Linked DNA regions of Homo sapiens: region 2 is reported to be linked to region 1. The links are microRNA targets in miRTarBase. Many come from high-throughput screens and were not tested one by one. Region 1 holds a microRNA gene; the other region holds the end of a gene's coding sequence.
What was found. Region 1 holds the annotated microRNA hsa-miR-6785-5p (UGGGAGGGCGUGGAUGAUGGUG, at 2,262-2,283, shown strand). A microRNA usually pairs through its seed, bases 2 to 8, with sites in the 3' UTR of a target mRNA and lowers its output. Matches are read on the target gene's strand: a 7mer-m8 pairs with bases 2 to 8, a 7mer-A1 pairs with bases 2 to 7 and ends in A, and an 8mer does both.

Region 1 (3,184 bases):
GATCCCCTGTACCCATCCCGTTGCTCCTGGGAGACCTTTGGCTACGCCACCAGCATCAGCATGGCCCAGGCCTCGGATGGCCTTTCTCCCCTGCAGCTGTCAGGGCAGCTCAACAGCCTGCCCTGTTCCCTGACCTTTCGCCAGGAGGAGACCATCAGCATCATCCGGCTTATCGAACAGGTGGGTGCTTCGGCAGGCAAAGGAGGAGAGACGCAGGACAGGACCCGCCTGGGGTGGGAGTAGCAGCAAAGGACCTGTTTGAACCCGGGGACCTCATTCCCCAGCCCTCCGAGCGGGCTCTCCCAGGCAGTTACATTCGCCTCTGCTCCCCTCGTAGAAGCATCCTGGGCGTCTGGCTCTTGGCTAAAGTGTGTCAGCTGTTGGGCCTGGGAGAGGCCAGGTAGACCCAGGCCATAATCTGTCCCTCTTGGTCCCTAGGCTCGGCATGCCACCTATGGCATCCGTAAGTGCTTCCTCTTCCTGCTGCAGTGCCAGCTGACTCTTGTGGTCATCCAGGTGAGGTGGGGCCCGCACAGGCATTGCCCCCGTGCCACTCACCCCTTCACTCAGGGGCCAGCTGAAAATCTGAGGAAGGAGGCTGGGGTTAGCAGTACAGTCAAGGGGTCCCCCCAGAGCCTCTGTGAAGCCCCTGGGCTTTTTGAGCTGACCCTCATTGGCAGAAGAGTATTCCCTCCGGCCCCTGTTCCCTCTGGCAGGATGTGAGCATCTATCTGGGCCCAGGGCAAGGGAGCTCGGGGGCTCCTATGCCCTTATTATTTGCCTGAATTGAACTGTGGCTCTTGGCTTCTTTCCTGGTCTAGTTCCTTTCTTGCCTGGTCCAGCTGCCGCCACTCCTGAGTACCACCGACATCCTGTGGCTGTCCTGCTTTTGCTACCCTCTGCTCAGGTGAGATGCCATGTATCTTCCCCACACCCCATGCCTAAGCAGGAGGTGTCTGGATGTCACTGTGCAGCCCCAGGAGCCCAAGGTTCTGGAACTGCTCAGGTCTCACCTCCTCTGGTACAGGAGGCATGGAGGGAACCCCCTTTGTCTTTTTTTTTTTTTTTTTTTTTTTTTTTGAGATGGAGTCTCGCTCTGTCACCCAGGCTGGAGTGCAATGGTGCAATCTCTGCTCATTGCAACCTCCGCCTCCCGGGCTCAAGTGATTCTCCTGCCTCAGCCCCCTGAGTAGCTGGGATTACAGGCACCCACTATCATGCCTGGCTAATTTTTGTATTTTTAGTAGAGATGGGTTTTTGCCATGTTGGCGAGGCTGGTTTTGAACTCCTGACCTCAAATGATCTGCCCATCTCAGCCTCCCAAAGTGCTGGGATTACAGGTGTGAGCCACTGCCGTCCAGCCTTTGTTTTATTCCATCCCCTCACCAGACTCGACCTCACGCGCAAGACTCCCTAGAGGTTCCCTCTATGAGAATTGAGGGACAGAGGGTCATTGTCACCATCCCTCTACCTGATCTCTGCTTTTCAGCATCTCTCTGCTGGGGAAGCCCCCCCATAGCTCCATCATGTCTATGGCAACGGGGAAAAACCTCCAGTCCATTCCCAAGAAGGTAAGCAAAACAGACCCTGTGAGCCTTGCAAGTGAGCATGGAAGGGACTGAGGATTGGGGGAGGAGAGAGGGGCTAATCTGGAAGGCTCTGGATGGGGGATTCCAGCAGAACTCCGGCACTTGGTTCCTAGTCTTCCCCCAGATCAAAGAGGAGGTAGTGGCACAGAGCTGGGAAAGACCCTTGCTGGGGCTTGAGCTCCCTATCCCCCCAGGCCTGACCATTTACTAAGAGCCCGTTGAATACGTGGAAGAGCTAGGAGCAGCCGGCAGAGGGGCTGTGCGCCCCAGGAGTGACTGGCCTTGTTCCCGCAGACCCAGCACTACTTCCTGCTCTGCTTCCTGCTCAAGTTCAGCCTCACCATCAGCTCCTGCCTCATCTGCTTTGGCTTCACACTGCAGAGCTTCTGTGACAGCTCCCGGGACCGCAACCTCACCAACTGCTCCTCCGTCATGCTGCCCAGGTGGGTCCCAGCCCCAGAGATCCACCCATCGCCTGCCTCGCCTCGAGGCTTCCTCCCTCCCCACCCCAGCCTACCTCCCTGCGGCCCTAGAGGGGCTGAGCCCATGCCTCACTTTGGCAGCAACGACGACAGGGCTCCAGCCTGGTTTGAGGACTTTGCCAATGGACTGCTGTCGGCTCAGAAGCTCACGGCCGCCCTGATTGTCCTGCACACTGGTGAGAGGGCTCCCTGGGAGGGCGTGGATGATGGTGGGAGAGGAGCCCCACTGTGGAAGTCTGACCCCCACATCGCCCCACCTTCCCCAGTCTTCATTTCCATCACCCATGTGCATCGCACCAAGCCCCTGTGGAGAAAGAGCCCCTTGACCAACCTCTGGTGGGCCGTGACAGTGCCTGTGGTGTGAGTATTGCTAGGATGGAGGGCGGAGTGTGGGCTGGGGAGGAGAGGGCCTTCTGCAGGGCTAGGATCGGAGGGCGGGACCGGGGCCAGTGGTTTAACTGTACCCTGCCTGAGCTAACTGTTGTACTGGGAAGAGCAGGGAAGGAAGCAAGCAGTGTCGGGTTCACACGGGGCCGCCACCTCCTGCAGGCTGCTGGGTCAGGTGGTCCAGACGGCTGTGGACCTGCAGCTGTGGACACACAGGGACAGCCACGTCCACTTTGGCCTGGAGGACGTGCCCCTGCTGACATGGCTCCTGGGCTGCCTGTCCCTGGTCCTTGTGGTGGTGACCAATGAGATCGTGAAGCTACATGAGATTCGGTGAGCTGTCAGCAGGGCGCCTCCCTCTGGGCTCAGGCATGTTCCCTAAACCTGTTACTCCCTTGGCGACACTCCCCCACCTTTCCGCTGCCCATCCCTCCCTCCTCCTCTGGTGTCCTGCCCCGGCCCCTGGTCTAAGGATCTTTGCCAACCTGTACTTTAATCTCCTGCCCCACCAGGGTCCGAGTCCGCTACCAGAAGCGACAGAAGCTGCAGTTTGAAACTAAGCTGGGCATGAACTCTCCCTTCTGAGCCACTGGCTGTGGTGGCTGTAGTTGCCCCCGTCCCTGGGGCTAAAGCCAGACCCATTTCTGAACAGGGGAGTTTGTATCATGAATGTTTCCAGGTTTGCTCCTGCACCCGTGGCACTGGAAACCCAGCTCCCCGTGTCAG
Region 2 (3,000 bases), not on the chromosome of region 1:
CCTTAAGATATCTGGAAAGATAGTACTCATTCTTTCCCTTGGCTCAAAGTCCAATATATCAGTAAGTTTTAATTTAGTTTACAAAACTCTGCCATATTAACATGAAGAGCACACTAATGCTTAATGTTTAAGCATTATCTTTTAGGAAGTAATACAACACAGAGCTCAACACCGAATCTAAAAGGTCACAATCTAAGTCATTATTAATTCAGAAAACTTCAGCAACTTCTATCTTTATTGAAAAAGACCAAACCAATCCCTTATCTCCTACTATATCATTACTCTATTTTCATGGCCCTTCTATCAAAGAAACAGCTTAAAATAAAACTTGGTTAGAGTTAAGTCATAGAAAATAGTTCTCTAGCACTAGCTGAAGTTCAGACTTGATCAGGAAAGCAACTTCTATACAGTAATGATTTTCTGACTCAGTGTTTAAGATAGTATTAACCTGACTTTTATCTCTTTTAACATTTGAAATCTTTGTTATCTAAAAGTCTTTCCCAATAGAATTATAACCATGATAGTTTTAAAGGAGACAATATATTAAAAGTTGAGCTGGAACCACATAGTCCTTTAATATGATTAGCCAGTTATCCAAGTATCAATAACGTTAATCTTTTAAATGAAAACAATGAAATTTTATGAGCTTAACTGAAATGTCTTAATTTAGAACTTCTCAATTCTTTTCATCATATATATTTCATTACTACCTTTCGTTATCAGTATTTCATAATTGATGTTGTAATGTTTGAGACCTTAAAGGGATACTACCCATCACCTAACATATGCATAGCTCTGGCTTGAAAAAAATTTTTTTTCCCCTATTTATCTCAACTCTCATTTTTATTATTCAGGGAGTTCCAAAGTCATGATTGGAAGAGACATGATTTACCTTATGGCTACAAACAGCATATGATCCTAAGAAATCATGCATCTTCTGGCTGGGCGCAGTGGCTTATGCCTGTAATCCCAGCACTTTGGGAGGCCGAGGCAGGCGGATCACCTGAGGTCAGGAGTTCAAGACCAGCCTGACCAACATGGAGAAACCCCATCTCTACTAAAAATACAAAATTAGCTGGGGTAGTGGCGCATGCCTGTAATCCCAGCTACTCGGGAGGCTGAGGCAGGAGAATTGCTTGAACCTGGGAGGCGGAGGTTGTGGTGAGTCGAGATTGCGCCATTGCACTCCAGCCTGGGCAACAAGAGCGAAACTCTGTCTCAAAAAAAAAAAAAAACCCAGAAATCATGCATCTTCTATATTCAAACAAATCTTTAACAAGAGCAAGAGTAAAATTAAGAAGAATGTATGTCTTCATTATAAAGTTCTTACCTAGTAGGGGCAAGTTTTTTATTTTAATGTATTCTTTCAAAACCTAAGAAATCTTTCCTAAATGAAAAATTCTTGTTACTACTACAAATATTCTTTCCACTCATGACATTTTACATAGCATCATTTAAGCACCAGAGAAAAGTTCTGTAAACAAACTTTTAACCAGTAAACTAAGGGCAAATATCTATTTGCCTTTATTACAATATTTAAAAGGCCATGATATGAGTCTCTACTCCCTACAATGACATTTTTATAATGAAAATCCAGGCATATTTATACAAACAAATGGAATTACTGTACATTTTGGGAGAACAAAAGGCAGATCAACAGACTAGAACTAGAACTTTTGAGTTAATAAAGCAAGCAGAAGGAACTAGAAAAATGTATGCCATGTATAAAAATTCAGTTTTTTTAAAGTTTCATTGAAGGGATTAATAATTATTAAGAATAAAAGATGGTAGTTCCACTTGCTTATAATTATCCTGTAAAATTAAGAAAGTAATAAGCAATAAATTAGAAATGTCTTAGTTCCTAGTATTTCCCTTCTCTTGCACTGGAAACATTTTCACAGCAGTTAAAATTGGCTCTCTTAAATATCAGAATAATTCTTGCAGAAAATAAATTCCATCAGGAAGAAGTTAACAGTCTACAACAGATTTCTGACAAATACATTAGAAAAAAAAATACTGCAGGTCACATGAAGACTGATCTACATGTTATATGACAGAGTAACTCAAACCTTCAAACCTTCTCTATTTTACCATATTTGCTTTTTTGCTATTATATTGCTATCTAAACTGTTTGGTAGCAAGGTAATAGAAAAATAAAAGGTAAAAAGAACACAACAATTGTTTAATGTCTGTAGATTTATGAAGAAGAAACTCTCAAAATAAACTTTTTCCTATTACAGTTACTTAGGAAAAAAGTTTCATTTGGCACACTGAATTTATAAAACGAAAAAAGAAAATAAACTTAAGAGTGTTTGGCATTCCAATCACCTGTAGTTAAGACAACAGTAGAAAAGAAAAGTAGGAGAAATTACTATTTTAAGAAAAAACATCAGAAGACAAACAAACAAATGTTCTTGTGTCTTCTACCATTCACTGTTCCTGGAATACTTTCATCTGCAACACAATATACAAATTATTATTTACATTATGATTATATTGGTAAAGAAGACCAGAATCAGGTTTTGTTGTGCTCTAACTTAGTGTCCATTGGGATAACTGTGACCATCAAGGCAAGGCCTTAAACAACAAAAAATTACATTTGCATTGTATATTTTGTTTAAGTCTGTTTTCTGGTTCATCTTCAAGTTTGGTGCACAAATATGTAAGACTCTAAAAAGTCCTGTAAACTTAGGCTGTTTCTGTAGCCGATGACGTTCATTGAAGATCTTGTGTTTCCTCTTTTAAGTAAAATGTTCTGCAGGTTTACAAAGGTATTTCCTTAAACAGTGGTATCTCCAAAGTCCTTGTTCCAACGTATGTACGCTTCTAAAGTTTGAGGGCTGACGCTGCGTTTTATTTTTTTCAAGGATTCAGTGAAGTCAGATAATCGAATATTTCTCATCTAGATTTTTAAAAAGCACATGACAATACAAATGATCAACAGGTATATGGTGGTTAACGAAATGATGGATTAAAGTAATGATGCTGCTGTTTCTTAAT

Region 2: the mRNA of SPAST is a reported target of hsa-miR-6785-5p. Seed matches in the 3' UTR shown: 7mer-A1 at 1,144-1,150 and 7mer-A1 at 979-985.

What each region holds. Positions count from the first base shown.
Region 1 is chr17:75,496,292-75,499,475 of GRCh38, forward strand. It overlaps MIR6785 (microRNA 6785), which reads left to right and starts at 2,257; the gene lies at 2,257-2,337. It overlaps TMEM94 (transmembrane protein 94), which reads left to right. Exons shown (of 32, transcript NM_014738.6): 24 at 1-180; 25 at 439-516; 26 at 822-907; 27 at 1,490-1,571; 28 at 1,884-2,032; 29 at 2,153-2,247; 30 at 2,338-2,431; 31 at 2,621-2,791; 32 at 2,971-3,184. The coding sequence ends at 3,043.
Region 2 is chr2:32,154,276-32,157,275 of GRCh38, reverse strand. It overlaps SPAST (spastin), which reads right to left. Exons shown (of 17, transcript NM_014946.4): 17 at 1-2,902. The coding sequence ends at 2,780. Among named protein-coding and RNA genes, the nearest start is that of SLC30A6-DT, 10 kb to the left of the region's middle.